Linked DNA regions of Homo sapiens: regions 1 and 3 are each linked to region 2. The links come from fine-mapping of genetic effects on gene expression. A gene starts in region 2. Each other region holds a variant in brackets. All regions are shown on one strand. Distances are from middle to middle. Region 1 overlaps GARS1 (glycyl-tRNA synthetase 1). Region 2 holds the start of CRHR2 (corticotropin releasing hormone receptor 2). Region 3 overlaps LOC105375220 (a long non-coding RNA gene).

Evidence for each region. PIP is the estimated chance that this variant, and not a neighbour inherited with it, causes the effect. A credible set is the group of variants that fine-mapping cannot tell apart.
Region 1: its variant is the best candidate, but not a certain one, in a credible set for the expression of CRHR2 in fibroblasts (GTEx, PIP 0.78).
Region 3: its variant is the best candidate, but not a certain one, in a credible set for the expression of CRHR2 in tibial nerve (GTEx, PIP 0.82).

Annotation. Positions count from the first base shown.
Region 1 is chr7:30,630,908-30,636,697 of GRCh38, reverse strand. GARS1 (glycyl-tRNA synthetase 1) reads right to left here. Exons shown (of 17, transcript NM_002047.4): 15 at 5,157-5,250; 16 at 4,261-4,451; 17 at 2,665-2,963. The coding sequence ends at 2,838. Among named protein-coding and RNA genes, the nearest start is that of GARS1, 39 kb to the right of the region's middle. The variant G/A (reference allele first, on the strand shown) is at 2,969.
Region 2 is chr7:30,679,488-30,685,277 of GRCh38, reverse strand. It overlaps CRHR2 (corticotropin releasing hormone receptor 2), which reads left to right and starts at 2,822. Exons shown (of 12, transcript NM_001883.5): 1 at 2,822-3,100; 2 at 3,238-3,363. The coding sequence starts at 2,998. It overlaps LOC124901608 (a long non-coding RNA gene), which reads right to left and starts at 2,659. Exons shown (of 2, transcript XR_007060275.1): 1 at 2,205-2,659. RefSeq lists a silencer at 2,751-2,800.
Region 3 is chr7:30,706,059-30,711,848 of GRCh38, reverse strand. The region is part of intron 1 of LOC105375220 (a long non-coding RNA gene); the gene reads right to left. Among named protein-coding and RNA genes, the nearest start is that of CRHR2, 26 kb to the right of the region's middle. RefSeq lists an enhancer at 3,910-4,410. The variant G/C (reference allele first, on the strand shown) is at 2,721.

The sequences.
Region 1 (5,790 bases), 49 kb after region 2:
AAGATTAAATTCTTAAATAATAGTTAAAAGCAGAAAAATAGAAAATATCTAATTGTATGTTTTTGTATTAGATGCTGATCATACTTTAATTCTATAATTCAAAATAGTATCAACCCATTTCTAAAATGACACTCTGTAAAATAATTTAAAGTGTTAATTATATGAGAAAATTACACATACATGTCTTCTTTAAACTTTTTTAAGTGGCTTTGTTTTCATTAGACTGTATTATTTGTAATCAGTATAGTTTAGTAAAGTTATTTTGAAAATAAAGATAATTTTTGTTATCCTTTGTTTTTCTCACGTTTAATGTCAGTCTTCCAAAGAAAAATAAAATTTGGCACTAAGCACAAGAAAAAAAAAAAAAAGAATCTGACCTTCCCCCATCATTTTTGGGAGAAGTAATAAACAGGAGTAACTTCTCCAAGATACAATGCTATTTATCTCACTCTTGTTAAGCCCACAGTCCGGTACGTACAGGTATATAAATAATTTAAAAGGCCTCAAAGAGCATTAAGCCAGAAAGACCCATGCTTTAAATACACATTGGGCTTGAACAGAAGAGGTGTGTGCGTATGCATACGCAAACTCGTGGGTAAAGAGTCTCTTCATTTAGAAAACAGCACTTCAACTGCTTGTTCTTAAAATCAAGCAAACATGGTACAGACAGAACCAGAGAGCTCTGCTGCCGGCCCGTCTCCCTCACTCAGGTATCACTTTAGAGACCTGCTTTAGAGCAGGTGATCCAGGAGAAATCACGCATTGCTACCCAGGGGAAGGAACAAAAGAGGGCTTGCAGATTCAATATCCAGCCTCTACCTCATGACAAATGTATTTGCCAATGAAAAGGGAAGTGAGGCTTGGTTCCAATCCCTTTCTGATCCAAAGTATTAGGCTGGTGCAAAAGTAATTATGGTTTTTGTCATTACTTTATTTATTTATTTTTTTGAGATGGAGTCTCGCTCTGTGCCCAGACTGGAGTGCAGTGGCACAATCTCAGCTAACTGAAACCTCCGCCTCCCGGGTTCAAGTGATTCTCCTGCCTCAGCCTCCCATGTAGCTGGGAGTACAGGAACGTGCCACCACACCCGGCCGATTTTTGTATTTTTAGTAGACGGGGTTTCACTGTGTTGGCCAGGCTGGTCTCGAACTCCTGACCTCAAATGATCCGCCCGCCTTGGCCTCCCAAAGTGCTGGGATTACAGGCATGAGCCACCGCGCCCAGCCTGTCATTACTTTTAATGGCAAAAACCGCAACTACTTTGGCACCAACCTGATGATAGGTAACTCTCACTATGTATTTAATGTATCTTTCCCTATTAATGAGCTTAAACCAATGTCTGAGGCTGTGGTGACTGTTTGACTATGGAGGTACCTGCTGTAAAAGCAGCAAATAAATGCAGTTAGGGCAGCCCCCTGCCAATGTAAAGCTGCTAGAACATATGCCCAGTTAAAAGCTATATTATATGGAATTCGAAGTGAGAGAAATCCCTAGAAAATGAAAACTCAGTTTATTTAAAATCTGGCTCCTTCTAATTTAATAATGAATGCTCATAAAAGCAGAGACGGAAGAGAAATATGCTTCAGTATAAGGCTTTCCTCCCAAAGAGGTTTGTTCAAAAAAGAAGTCTGTTCAAAAATTCGAGACTCATCCAAAGACTATTTATGGAAGACCTACTATGTACAGCACTGCGGTAGGCACCACTGGAGATGAGATACAAATGAGGGAAATCCCTGGGAGATTCCTACTTTACATCTAAGAAATCACAACTTCAATTGTTCTTCATACTAGAAACAAAAGGGCACACTGGAGATCACCACTCCTCTATCCAATACTGCAGGGGAGGAAGTGGGCACACTAGATAAGGTCATAGCTCTGCAAATAAACAGCTGCTCAAATTCACACAACCTGGAATTTTTCCCTTACAAATAAGCACAGCGTTCTGAGTTTTCTATACAAAAACATAAAAGAAGTAAAGTACCTTAAAACCTGAGCCAAAAACTGCTAGGCTAGAATCAAGACACTGCGATGGTCAGGAATTGCTAAATCAGACGAGAGAGATGGGTTCCCCTAGCATCAAGAGCTTAATGATTTCCAGGCTACCAGTGGAGCTGAGTGCAAGCATGCCTTAAGATAGAAGGCAAATATGGCAAGGCCCTCCCCTCCTGGAGAATCTGCAAACAGTGGGGTTAGCAGCCCTAAAGCACCACTCCTGCCACCCCATCCTCACCTCAGGCTTTTCCAGAAGTCATTTCACCTGCTTGGAGACTGCTGTCACAGTACCTGCACACTGCGTCATTTTCTCAGAATAAGATAAAGAATAGAAAAGGTAAATCAATAGACAGAAAGTAGAGGAGTGGTTGCCTGGGCTGAGGTTAGAATGGGAGTGAGGTAAATGAGCATGAGACTTATTTTGGAGTGATGAAAATGTTCTAAAATTGGTTTGTGGTGGTGGTTGCACAACTCTGTAAATATACTAAACATCATTGAACTGTACACTTAAGACAGGCTATTTTTATGGTATGTAAATTATACCCCAATAAAGCTGTTAATTTTTTAAAAAGTGTTAACTGTGTTTAACATTAAGCCATGAGCATGTCTACCCAAACGTGGGAGAAACAGCCTTGCTGAAAATGTAAAAACACAAGCAAATAGATCACAAGTTTGTTCAGGATTCCTTCAACTTTAATTGTGGGGGTAAAATCAGGCAGCCACTGAAGATAAAATACGGTCCCTGGGAGTAATCACAATGCTGTTTTCTTTTGTAAAGTGGACATAAGAGTAGTTTTTTTTTTTTTTTATTAGCGCAAGTGGTCAAAAGTTGTCAAAATTGTCCTCATTCCTCGATTGTCTCTTTTTTACCAGTCTCTTGCCCTTCAAACAGAGGATACCTGGCCTCCACATCAGCCCATGTGATGTTGCCATTGGCTAGGTCTTGGACTATGCTGGGCAGCTCAGAGATCTAGA[G/A]ACAAGGAAAGAGAAGCCAAGTATCAACCAACTTGTTCAGATTTTTAAGAAGAAGATTCATCCTGAACTCAGGAAACCTTACACAGAGCCAAACAATGTCATGCCAGGCATGGGTTCATGCTCTTCTAGCCCAAAACGCCCACCAGTTCCCCCAGACAACTCAATTCTGCCACAAAGCCTTTCCTAACTTTTCTAAATCTCCATGTCCCTTGAAGTTACTTCATGTGTATTAAATTTAACTATTAGAACAAACAGGACTCAGTCAAGTAACTCGTGTGAGGGAATTACATAAGACTGGCAAACTGGAGAGCTCTGACCAAGGCTACTGTTCCTCAGCCAAAACCAAACACTGGCTGCCACACAGCAATGGTTCTCAAACTTGAGTGCACGTCAGAATCATCTGGAGGTCTTGCTAAAACTAAGAAAGTTCTGCCTGCCCCCTCTGCCTCTCCACCCCCAGTTTATGATGCAGTAGGTCTGGGGTGGAGGTTTTGCTTATCTCATACATTTCCAGGGGATACTGATGCTGCTGGTCTAGGGACCACACTTTTGAGAACCACACCCAGATGGGGACACAGCTCCAGAGTAGCCAGATGGTCTCTAAAAAGTCAAGCTAGAAATTCACGACTTCTGGATTAGACTATAAACTCCTTCAGAAAAAAAAGCAGTCTTTTGCTTCTGTTTTCCCTATTACTTCTGTATCAAGCTAAGCACAGAACAGGCACTTGATGTATGTGCTCAAAGGTGATAAATTAGGCAGGCAGATGTCAATTAAAGCAGCTACTCTTTCCTTTCCCTTACCACTCATCCTTCTCCTTCTGTGCTTCTACCATCTCCATTACTGCCTTCCTATTGACCAAAACTACTGAAACATGATTCACTGTTTTGAATATATGAACACGGAAAAGCTTATACATACACATGTATACGCGTCTGTAAAAATAAAACATTAAAATGTCTAACCCTCCAAAGCCTACCAATAAAACTATGGCAACAAATTCTTAGGATCATATTTCTCTTGCCCAATAAACAAACAAGTATAAAAGCAAACTGCTGGAGAATAAGCCTGGAGCAACACAAATGTTTATAAAATATTAGAGAAGTGCTAATGGATATTTTCATAATTAAACCGGGGGACTTGAGAATCTGGGCTCTGTCTGATACAAGCCGTTCATTAAAATTAAAAAGAAAAAAAAAGGAAAGGGAGCATAAACACATCAAAATCCAACACAAATCAGTAAGAAGCAGTACACATTTCTAAGGCTAAAAATGCCAAAGAGAAGGCCAGATACCTCTGCTCTTATCTGCCGCATTGAGTCACGGTCCCTCAGAGTTGCAGTGTGGGGGGTCTTGTTCACTGTGTCAAAGTCAATGGTGACACCAAAAGCCACGCCAATCTCATCAGTCCTGGCATAGCGCCTTCCGATTGACCCAGAGGAATCGTCTACTTTGTGAGATACTCCATGCCTGGTCAGGGCTTCCGCTATCCAAAATAAACAAAGTAAATTAAAAATAAAACAATGGAGTTAAGCCCAGTGTTATCTAACTACTGTCTTACAAGCTCAGGAGACTTATAAATGGGACCAAGACAAGAAAGCAACAAGTTGAGTTGCAAGAGAAAGAAATATCCCTAAAGTTTAATAAATCCCTTGCGGGAATCCAAATCTTCACTCATACCTCCATCTGATACAGCTATAGGGGGAACAAATATGGGACCAAGAGCCAAGGCCAGAAGGTGAGTCCTGACTCCACCACCTCTATTTTTATGGCTCTAAGCAGGTCAATGGACTCTCCCCATTTCCCAGCTCTGAAATAAGTGGATGTGCCAGATGACCACCAGGATTCCTTTCAGGGCTGTGGATTCTGTGGCTGTAGATCCATTATGGTTGCTACACTCCACTCAGGTTCCCTCGATGAACTTGGCACCAAGGTCAGTATGAGAAGTAAATAATTTTTAAATCTGACTCTTGGGTCCTACCTTGCCTCACTCAAATGCCAGAATAAAACATCTGAGCAAGCATATCCTCTCGCTTAGAAATAAGAGTACAGGCTAAAATCATGTACTCTTTATAAAATCATTTATATTCTTTATTCAGTCTATATTTTTATTGAAATAAATGATACATTTCCTAAAATTCAGTCTCCTTGATGGTGTTCCCATGGAGTTTACCCAATTGAATTTGCTTACATAATTCCTTGACAAATGGCATGAACTCCTGGTTTTGGCTCAGTGGGAGGACGGAACATTTGAATGGAGCAACTACAGCAGGGAAACTGAAGAACTGGATGATTTAAAAAGAAAAAAATCCAAATATGTTAATTTGTAAATATCTAAATGCTAATATCCCAAACCAAAAGAGGTTAATATTCAGCAAGTGTTCAAGCATAACGTCATTACCAAAATGCCAGAAAACATGACATGAAAAGCAGTATGGCAAAAGAGAAGCAGAACCAGCATCAGAAACACCTGGTTTCAGCTCCGAATTTAGGCCAAGTCATGAACTCTTTCTGAACCTTAGTTTCTCCACCTAAAAAGCAGGTCTCTACCACCTGCTCTGCTTGCTTCACAAGCCCGTTACTAAAAAAGTCAAATGATGTGAAAGCATTCTGAAAGCTACTGTATATAAAAGACGGTAATTTTTTGGTTCCACATAAAAGACTTTCTGTGGAGACTACCTAAATATTCAAACAAGTGGCAGTGACCCAAACCAAAGCCCATTCTGTCTTTTAAGAGAAAAACCTATGAACCTCAGTGACCAAGTGAAACAGAAAAGTTTAATTAGCTCACAAACATATGTCCAAAAGAAATAGTACAAAACAAA
Region 2 (5,790 bases):
ATTCTGTTGTGCCTACATGCCTGTTTGATGCCATGTATTAGGCTTTGCAAGTGTGTCTGAGCTGGCCTGGAACTGTCCACTGCTGCTGCAGCTGACATCAGAGGTGGGCCATGGGATGGGATGCAGGGCACCAGAGGCACCTGCCTTACTCTGCTGCTCATGGTACACAGGGGTCTTCCAAAGTACCTGTCACACTTCCCTGAACCTATTTGCCAACCTGTCCCCAACAGCTTGGGGACACACAAACTGTTCCAAATACTTATCCCCTAATTCCTGGCCTCCAGCTGGGATGGGGCTGGCCTGCAGCGCTGGGAACCCATCACTATCCCAAAGCCTCTAATCTACCTCTGCTTCTTTAGTTAGCAAAAATGCCCCTGTCTTTGTTTGTTTGTACTTGGATTTAGTAAAATTGAGGGAATTTTGGGGCTCTTCCCAATTTCTTCCTCATTTGCCTGTTTGCAGACACTAAAGTGAGCTGTAAAATCAATTTGTTCCCAAACTGCTACCTTTTCTAGTTTTCCCTCTGTCACATCTCGAATGACAACTGTGCCTATAATAATAAGATCCATGAAGAAATGGCCCCACATCCAGGGGACCTCGGGTCTGTGGGTCTGTGGGTATGTGCTCAGACCCCAACTGCTCATTCAGGATGCAGAACAGCCTTTGACTCTGCCACTGAAATGGTCACTTCCCAGAAGAATCTTTGGTATGTGAGCTCTCCCAGTTAAGAGCAATCCAGTTCACCCAGGCCAACCCTCTGTTCTGCAGAAATCTGCATGAGATGAGAAGTCCCTGGCCTCTGGTCATTGGGAGCACACCACCTCTTGACATAGCTGCATCTATAGGTGCTTTAGGCACCACCTAGGTGGTGGCTGCAGTAATGAACAAGGATAATAACTTAAGCTTGGCTTAGGATTTCTCCCTTCCTCTGTGCTGCACCGTGCTGTGTGAAGGGCTATCCCTTGTATATGAGGGACACTATTGCCCTGTGAATACATGGGCTGACCTGGCCAGCCACCCTCTGGCCTGTGTGGGACCCTGGGTAACAGGGCTCAGTCTAGGAGCGGAGGGTAGGACTCTGCCTAGGTCCTCCCCTGCTCCTGGCACTGGATAATATGAAGACCAAGGAACCTCTACCTCTGCAGCTGCCCAGAGCTGAGCCTGGGCTCTCACTGTCCATTCAGGAGGCAGAGGGTAGACCTGGCTGGCTGCTCAGCATCTTGTTCCTGCCAGTCAGCAGGCCCTGGAGAGATTCCAGGGCTCAGCCCTGGTCTTAGTGTGGTCTCACTCGCTCTGCCTGGGCAGTGACAGCACCATTAATATGGAGGCTGGTGAGAGCGGAGCACACAAAAGCAGCCTGCCTGCTGCTTTGCCTCTCTCTGCCCAGGGCATGGTGCTAGTTCATGGTGGTTTCAGCCTTTCCTAGCAGCTTAGGTTTATGTGGAGGATGGCAGGGGAACAGGACTGGTTTCTGAGACTAGGTTCCAGCTCTCCTTGCCCTCTAAAGATAGAAACAAACAACACACAACACACATGTATGTCTTCCCCAGACTCTCCGTCTCATAACTCAGAACCAGAGAGTCTCAGAGCTGAGAGGGGCCTCGGGGAAGATTTCACTGATGGAGAAAGCTCCAGAAGAGAGGGCAAGCATCCTGCCTGGGGTACCATGGCAGGGAGAGCAGAGTCAGAGGCTGGACCAAAATGCAGCCTGAGTGGAAGCATGCCTTACCCCAGGCCCTGCTTCCCGAGCCCAATGCCCCACTCAGCTGGCAGACACAGCAGGCCCGCCCTGGGCACTCTGAGGGTGCAGCCACAGCAGATCACCAAGGAGGCATTCTGGGCCAGGGTGGGGTGGGGGGCCTGGGCAAGTTCTCTGGGGAGGTTTCCAGCTCCTCCACACCTGCTGTGGGGCCTGATTCTCCCCGCCCCTGCCCCGCTACTGGTGTGGAAACCAGGGTCAGGTGAAGCCCTGCCCAAGCCTTGAGGAAGAGAGACACATTCTCACTTCTTCCTTTATTCTTTCTGGTGCCCAAGGCACTAACAACTGGGTGTATAAAGCCTTCCAGATAATTTCAGCCAATTTCTCCCCTAGACTTACTCCATCTGATTAAATGGCCACCCAGTCACTCAAGCAGGAGACCTGATGTTATCCCTGCCTCTGGGCTCCTACTTAAAACCAGCCACCCACTCCAGTTCCTCCTCACCAGGTCTGGCTGCCCCTCCGAAATCTCTCTCCATTCCAGCTTCCACGGTCTGATCCAAGGACTTCAACCCACTCAGGCCACTTGATCTCATTAGACTCATGGGTGTCTCCCTGCTTCCCTCCAGGCCTCCTCGATACATTTCCTTCCCAGAGGCTATGGAGGCTTTTGGAGGATGCAGATCTGCCCATGGGCTCTCCGTCTCTGCCTCCCTCCAGTGTCCTCGCTCAGGGAGGGGAAGCTCAGGCGGAAAGCTGCCGAACTTTGGGTTGCGGCTGTCCCTCGATTAGCAGAGCTGCGGTGTTCTCCTCGGGCAGGCGGGCAGGTGGGCGCGCTTTGCTGCCCCCTGCAGCTCGGGGGCCTGCGATCCCCGCACAGAGCATTCCGTCACCCCAGGCCCACGCTCTCCAGCCCACCGCCCTCCTCTGGACGCCGCGAGTGGAAGAGAGCTGCGAACTGAGAAGCCGTACTTTGGGCAGGGTGGAGGGCCCGGGGGCTGGAGACTGAGCCCCTCCGAGAGGAGCCGCCCGGCCCCGCCCCCCGGCGCAGCCATTGGCCGCGGCGGAGCGGCTGTACCCGCAGCTCCGTGCACTCGGCGGCTCCTCTCCGGGAAGGTCCCCACTTGACAGCTCTGGGCGACCGGAGGTGGCGCCCAAAGGCTGCCCGGGAGATCGGGGCTGGGCTGGCGGGGGCCAGGACCCCGCGCCCTCTCGGCCGCTCACTCTCGCGTCCACTCCCTCGCAGTCACGCCGGGCGCGCACTCCCACTCCCTCTCCGCACGCGGCTGCGGGACGCGATGGACGCGGCACTGCTCCACAGCCTGCTGGAGGCCAACTGCAGCCTGGCGCTGGCTGAAGAGCTGCTCTTGGACGGCTGGGGGCCACCCCTGGACCCCGAGGGTAGGCGGGAGGCGAGCGGTCGGAGGCTGCGCGGGCTCCTTCTCTCGCGCGCTGGGTGCGCCCCTGACCCCGCGCTCCGAGAGCCCCGCGTCCCTGCGGGCCCCTCTGAGCCCTACTGCGCTCTCTCCCGCCGCCAGGTCCCTACTCCTACTGCAACACGACCTTGGACCAGATCGGAACGTGCTGGCCCCGCAGCGCTGCCGGAGCCCTCGTGGAGAGGCCGTGCCCCGAGTACTTCAACGGCGTCAAGTACAACACGACCCGTGAGTGCCCCCGGCCCTCGCTGCCTGCTCTACACCGGCCTCCTGAGAAGGCGGTTTAGGGAGTAAAGAGGATTCCGGACCCAGCGGTACAAAGCTGCTGACGGCCGCGGTACCGCGGACCGCGGGCGTTAAGGACCCCTTACAGTGTTGGGGGCGCGCCTTCTGCTTCTACCCCCAATACAGCGTCTAATCTCAGTAAGCCAGTGATTTGCCCACAATTCCCGTGCTCCATGCGGTGACAGCCCAAAAAGGGGAGAAGGAAATACTTCCTCCTCTTGGAGTGTAAACCTCCTTCCCTCATTGTAGGTTCCCGTTGCCTGAAGTTCCCCATTAGGGCTTCATTGTTTAGACAATGCTTCCCCTGCCCAGGAGGGGGACCTATCCCAGGAGGGCGGATATGCTAAGTCCCAAATCCCCCAGAGTGAGTGCAGTGACCAGACCCTACTACCAGAGGGGAGGAGGAGGGTAGGAGGCAGGAGGGCTGGGGCGAGCGCATGTTTCGTGGGGAGGACATGCAGGCGTAGGTTCTGCTAAGCCAGAGGGTGCGGGGTGTTGCATCTTCCCTAATCCGAGGTCCCAGGACTGACCTGCTGGGCTGAGTCAGGGGCTGTGGGCAGCATTATTCCTGCGCCCCCATAATGAGTGGTGTCTGAATCAGCACCCCAACACCATCTCTCAAGGAGAACAACCTGTGCCTGCCTTCCTCCTGGCAAATCATGGACTGGCTTGAGGCTCTGGGGAAAAGGGCAGTAGAGGTTGCTGGAGTTACACAGCCTCCAGGTGGGGTCGTTCAGTGTGGGTTCTGGGTGTGTGCGTGTGGGTAGGTGCCTGTCTGTGCCCTGTGGAACATGGGATGGGAGCCAGGTGTGTGGTCTGCGGGAGGCTGTGGGGGCAGCAATCACTGCCCCACCTAGAACCCCCCTGATATCTCCAGCCGGACCCCAGTTGTCAAGCACGCTGAGACCCTATCTGGATTGTTTGTCTGAAGCCTCTCATCCTGGAAACATCCTCAGAGTGTCTGTGTCTGATTGGTAGCCCAGCTCCACCTCCACCACACATACACACACACACACACACACACACACACACACACACAAGCTTTCAGAAGCTGAGGCTGAGGGCTTTGCCATGAGAGATGGTTAGAAGGCAAGAGAGATGTACCTGCACCTGATGCCAAGCCGCACTCTCCTGGCTGCACCAGCTGAGGGCTCTGGTGGGCCCAGGGAGCACATGCTTCCCATCCATGATTAAAACAGATCTCCCTAGAAGGAAGTAAGATCCCCAAGCTAGGAGGTGTGCAAGCAGAAGGAATGATTTCCCTGTGCCTTCCTAGTCCTGACCTTATAAAACTGTATTTTTAGGATTCCGTGAGCTGTGTGGGGTGGGGCAATGGAGATCAGCATGCCTGATTCAGACTGGGCCCGGAGATTAAGGGCCATCCAGGGTAAAGTGGGGTGATGGAGCATCTCAGCCCACAGCCTGTGAACCTCAGGGAGCTCTGCTTTCGTTCTTACCCCAGCCTGGGCTATGCCTTGTTCTCCCCGACCAGCCTGGGGGCCCCCCCTTCCCAGGGCCTGGGTCTCTTCTTCATAGCCAAGCTGAGTACAGTAATACTCAGTCAATTTGTGGAATACCCACTATGTGCCAGCCACTGCACAGGCACTGTATTGAGGCTCTCACTCACAATTGCAACAGACAAAAAGAACAGAATGATGAATGCCCTAATTAGGGGGGAAGCACAAGGTCTATGGGATTGGGGTGTGGGGGCGGGGTGACAAGGAAGACTTCCCAAAGGTGCTGCAGACAGCACATATCAGGCCATTCATATCAATTAAGTCTAATGAGAAGCTGATAAAAGGTTGGGGCACCACCCAGGCTGGTAAAAGTAGGGCCAATTAGCCCCTGGTATCTAATGAACAATTTTCTTCATTTAGACCAAAGTGCTGCCTGCACTGCAACTGCTGGAGAATGAGAGGAGCTTGTGGAGGGTGGGGAGCACTTACCACTAACCAGCACCTGGGGTGTGAGGTCAGCCTAGGTGGGAAGAGCAGAGGCTGCTAATGGCTGTGGAAATGCATGATTGATTTCCCTCCTCCCCTTTCTTCACATCAGTGCTGCTTCCTGCTTCTCTGTTTGCCTTTTCCTTGGGATCCTTCCTTTAAAAAGAATGACAGAGGGAGAAACCTCCACGAGAAGCCTAGGGGAAGAACAGGAGCGTTCAGGCTCCACTTCCTGCCCCAATTTTGTTATGCTATAGCCAAACCCGCATTGAAGCCTCATTCCTTAGAGAGCAGGAATCGCCCGGGTGGGGATAGCAGTTTAGATATTAGTCTCTGCGATTTTTCAACTCAGCTGAGCACAGAGAATCTGCCACAAAGCTAAGTGTTGATCATTTTCCAGGTGCCAGCTACCACTGAGAGAGCTTTG
Region 3 (5,790 bases), 27 kb before region 2:
TTGGGAGGCCGAGGTAGGTGGATCACTTGAGGCCAGGAGTTCAAGACCAGCCTGGCCAACATGGTAAAACCCCATCTCCACTAAAAATATAAAAATTAGTCAGGCATGGTGGTTCATGCCTCTAGTCCCAGATATTTGGGTGCCTGAAGCATGAGAATCACTTGAACCTGTGAGGCGGAGGTTGCAGTGAGCCAAGATCGCATCACTGCACTCCAGCCTGAGTGACGAGCAAGATTCTGTCTCAAAAAATAAAAAGTAAAAACACTGCAATGCAGAAAATCACTGGCAGAAGGCTTGCTTAGAGAGGTACTCTTTTGTTGTAGTTAGATTCCTAGTTGGGAAGTTAGCAGTTCTGGGTTCTGGTTTTAAATCTACCACTAACTAGCTAAGATACAAATCATATTTCTCAGGGTGTCATGCATCCTCCCTGAGAACTGGGTAGAAAAGCATCTCTGGTTCCTGCAATGTCATCACCATGGTTCTAATGATTAGAAACACATATTACCCATGGGATCAGTCATCAATGACCAGGAAGAAAATCATGGTGAGAACTTCTCAGAAAGAATCCCCTGGTTGGCTGGGTGTGGTGGCTCACGCCTGTAATCCCAGCACTTTGGGAGGCCGAGGTGGACGCATCACCAGAGGTCGGGAGTTCGAGACCAGCCTGACTAACATGGAGAAACCCTGTCTCTACTAAAAATACAAAATTAGCCAGGCATGGTGGCGCATGCCTGTAGTCCCACTCAGGAGGTTGAGGCAGGAAAATCATTTGAACCTGGGAGGCAGAGGTTGCAGTGAGCCAAGATTGCGCCATTGCACTCCAGCCTGGGCAATGAGAATGAAATTCCATCTCAAAAAATAATAATTAAAAAAAAAAAAGAATTCCCTGGTTAACTAGTCACATGGCTTAGAGGTTATTAAACTGATGGCTGCTGTCCCTCCCTAGCAGTGTATGCTGGTGACTCAGCGCCAAACGTGCCAACTTGAGCTGTGATTTCTTTTCCCAAAGGCAGTATGTTGATTCTCTGACCTTTGAATCTTTTATTTGGTCACAGCCATGGATAAAGAAATGAACCTGGAGAAGCAGCGTAGCCTCTTCCCTAGAGGGACTTAAGTCCCAGCTCTGACAGGGACCAACTGTAGAAGCCTGAGCAAGCCCTTCCCCTCTCTGGGCCTCACTTTGCACATCTAAAATGAGGGGAATTAAGCTAGATGTTCTCTAAAGTTACTTGCAAAATTCTCTATTTTTGTATACAGTATTAATTTGCCAACTCTTGCTAGATTTTCATCAACAGTGCAAATATCTGTAAAAGATCAAAGTCACTTCTGGTGCCAATCATCAGGAGCAGGGTGGCCAGGGTGACCTCTTCCATCCAAGCCATATTTTGCTTTCACTCTTCCACTTGAAGCCTGTCACAGTAGCAGCTAGTCTTTGACTGAGGGTGTACGATGGGCCAGGCGCTGATTTAACCACTGGGCCTAGATTCATACATGTAGTTCCCCATGATCCAAAGAGGTAGGTACCATGAAAGGTACTATTGTCAGCTCCACTTTACAAAGGGAATTGTGAGCCAGAGAACGGAAGTCACTCACCCAAGGTCACACAGCTAGAGCACAGCAGACAGAATTCTCACCAGGCAATCTGGCTTTAGTCAATTCCTATTGAGCTCCTATTATGTGCATATAATAAAAGACACTGCAAAGAATCAATATTTGGGGACAACTGTGATGGTATTTATGCCATGTTCAAAACTAATTTCCCCTTCTTCCTGAGAAGCTGGGGGAAATTCAGGACAACTTGAATTTCCTTTGTCAATATTCTATATACCTGCCAACGAGAACATTAGCAGATTGTGCAAGGAGGCATGGTTCTCCACACAAATACTTTCTATTATTGCTGAATCAATAGCTCTGGTGCTCAGTTTGAGAGAACTATATTTCTGAAATAAAGAGAAAGAAAATTTTACTCAGAAATTCCAATTCTGCCTTCACAAACAGCCTCCCGGTAAGAGCAGTGGAGGCGCGGGTAGTTGATGGCTAGATGGGCTCTGAAATTCAGCAGGAGGACCAGGGGCGGGGGATGGGTGAGTGATACTCTCATAGCAAGCCCTGGGAAAACAAGAGAGGTATTTCTAAGGACCTGCAGGCGCTGCGTGGCCCTTCCCACAGAAGGGCACCATAGCACAGTAGTTAAGAGCATGGACTCCTGACCCAGACTGCTGGGTCAACTCCTAGATCCACTGCTTATTATTAGAGCTGTGACCTTGGGCCCATGACCTCAGCTCTCTGTGCTTCAGTTTCTTCATCCCTAAAACACAGGTAACAATATGGTTTTATATAGGGATTATATACATTTATAGGGTATATCTGAAAGGATTAGAATTATGCCTACCAGGGACCAAGGCTATGTATGCATTAGCTGTTATTAATACAGTTTCAGGTAACTCACCAAGCCCTGTATTTGGAAATGCAGAAGTCAAGGGTTTAGATGGGTGTGGGATTTAACTTTCCCATTAAATATGCTTCCTTCTAAGAATAGCATTGTGATGGCCTTCCCAGAGCGTGAAGCAATGGGAATGAGTTTCTTTCCCTTTTTTCTACCACCCAATCGTTTCCATCCTTTGATTCCCCTGGGATCCTTTGCCACAGGTTCCAGCCCCTGTGACCTCCCATCCCTCTTGCACAATCTCGCAGCCTCCAGCTCACACCCAGCCTAGGCT[G/C]TTCCCTGACTGTGGGTAAGTCAGCCTCCCAAGAATGAGGCTGGATTTTTCCTCTGCTTCTCTTCCTCCCCCCATCTCATCTTCATGGATGGGCCTGGGTCTCCTCTTCCCATATTTCCTGATCAGAGCTGGCACACAGCTGGGCCCACAGAAGAAATCAGAGTCCAGGAGTTCGAGACCAGCCTGGGCAACATAGAGAGACCCCTTATCTACCAAAAAAAAAAAAAAAAAAACCTGGGCACAGTTGGTCCCAGCTACTTGGGAGGCTGAGGTGGGAGAATTGCTTGATCCTGGGAAGTGGAGGCTGCAGTGATCTATGATTATGCCACTGCACTTCAGCCTGGGAACAAGAGCAAGACCCTGTCTCAAAAAAAAATAAAAAAAAAAAAAGAAGAAGCTGGGACTCTGACTGGAGGGGGCCATGAGAACATGAGCTCCCTGGAACACATACATGCCCATGGAGGTCACTGAACCCCCTCAGGGAGGCAGGATAGCGTGCTCACAGCAACTTGAGTTAAATCTCAAAGGACAGCTGTCACCACATGGTAAGAGATATGGATGAGGGAGGCCAAGGAGAATGCAGCCCTCACACAGTAGGAACACGGCTTTCCTCCTTTCCCCAGACGGAAGGCAGGGCAAACAGTGGCTTCGGTGTTGTTCTGTTTCACTCCTTTCTTTGGGCTTCAATTAGTTAAACATCTCCCCTTGCTTCTGGCTTATTTCTAGCCTTCAGCATTATTGATAACTTCGGTGTATCTTGGGAAGGTGGGAGGGGTGAGCCAGGAGGTGCTAGTTGCAGCTATCATACTTCCACGTCCCCTACTTCGCATTTTTTCAGGGCTTTGTCTAATTCCAGGAATAACTGAGGGCTGTGGAGAAGAGATCAGAGTGGAAGAAAGTGGATCCCACCCTTCTCTACTGACAGCCTAGCTCAGACTACTCACCGGCAGGCTATGATGATGATCAGAGTGTCTGCCTGAGAGGCCATCAGCCCCAGCCCAGGGAGTAGCCGAGCAGAGACCAGGGAACCCCTGGCAGGGAGGCTGGATCCGTAAGAACGTAAACATGACCCAGGGGCAATGTAAGGCAGCTCAGCCATGGAGACGATTCCATTTCACAGATGAGAAACTTGAGGTCCAGACGATGAATCCCTTTTCTCCAAGGGCTCACAGCCAGTAAGTCTTACAGCCAGACCGGAATCCTCCCTCCCAGTTCAGGCTCCAGGCCAAGTGAACTAGGCAGAGGACAAACCTTGCAGGCCGCTGGCTTCACTCTCACACTACCCCACCCAGCCCCACCAGCCACCAGGAGAGCACTCTGAAGTCAATGTGGCATTCGGCTCTGGTTTCCTCTGGCTCTCTCCTTTGTCCTCCCATGGCCCAAGGGGAGGACAGCTGTTCTGGACACAGGTGACTCCATTACAAAAGGCCACCTCCTCACCTTGCCAGTCTGATGCCACTGGCCGGTGGTCTTGTCCCTGCATTCAGGTGGAAATGCCCCCAAGCTGCCCAGCCACTGGGCCTGACATTTGCCCAGTGAAGGGCTGAGTCCAGGATCTGCCAATCCCGTCGACCACTCACCTTTTATTGACCTGCTGTCTCAGGCTCTTGCCCTCTGGGGAGCCCCAAGCTCAAGGCCCCACAACATCACCCTGCCGTAGAGGCAGCGTGGCCCAGAACAAGAGGAAGAGACATGTGTCATTGATTTGTCTCACTGAGCAGGCAGAAAAAGGTTGGGGAGAGGGCCAGCTAAGTGGCTGGGGAAGAAGCCTTCCTGGGGGTGGCCTTCCTGAAAATGCCAGGTCCCAGGCCTCATGGGGCCTTGGTTTCTCCACCTGTGAGATGGAAGCATGAATCGAGTGACTGTCAAGGTCCCTTCTGGCTGCAGTGTTCTCTGGATAGCAGCATCTGGACCAGGACTCAGGCCACCATCACGTCCCTGCAGAGTCTGCTGCCTGATCTCCCTGCCCCTGGGCGTGTCCCAGCCAAGCCATCCTCCACCCTATTCTTCCCACGTTCCAGCCCTTGTCACTCCCATGGTGGAAACCTCCAAAGTCTGCCTTACCCAGCCCACATGCCCCAGGCCTGCGCTCTGCCCACGGCCCTGCCTCACCCTAGTAGTCCCCCTTTTATGGACTGAATGTTTGTGTACCACTCCCCCACCCCAAAGCCAAATGATGAAATCCTAAGCCCCATTGTGATGGTCTTAGGAAATGTGACCTCTGAGAGGTGACTAGTCAGGAGGGCAGACCCTTCATGATGGGATTCTTGTCCTCATATAAAGGGACAGGAGAGCTTGCTCTGTCTCCATCCTGTAAGGCTATGAGGAGAAGATGGCCATCTGGAGGCCAGGAAGTAGTTCCACACCAGACACCACCTGCCAGCACCTTGATCTTGCACTTCCCAGCCTCCAGAACTGTGAGAAATAAAGTCCTATTTTTTATAAGCCGCTGAGTCTATGGTATTGTTCCGCAGCCCAAACTGGCTAAGACATCCCCTCAGGCACCCATCTATGACAGATGCCACCCATACAAACCACATGCTGGTCCGTGGGCCTGCCTTGTTCTCGCTCATTTGCTGTTGACACCTCCAGCCTCACCCAGCTGAGGTCCCCTCATTCCTTAAGCTGCCTTCCCTGGCCCCACTGGCGGGGTGCACGGGTTGGTGATGCTTACTCCTCCCCCCATAGGCCTTGCCTGTTTACTTATTATCTCCCCCACCAAGCTGGGGCAACCACTGTGTCTTCTCTCCCTGCCTCCTGCACTTAATAGTTGCTCAATAAATAAAATTGTGTGAAGTTCAAATCAAACACTGTCTTCTGCCTTCCGGCCCAGTGTTCTTGTAGGGGTCCAGGAAAGTCAGGCATAGGTAATGGCATCCAGAACCTGCCCACTGTGTGACCCTGCCATTGACCACTCCACGCCCCTTGCCCTGAGGCTCCCAGGGTCCTCCCTGTCCATTTGTTCACTTGACATCTAATAACCTACTTTGTTCTAAGCACCCATGGTCAGGCATCGCACAGGGTCTTGCACATAGTAGGCCTTCAGTGTTTGTTGACTTTGAAACAAAAT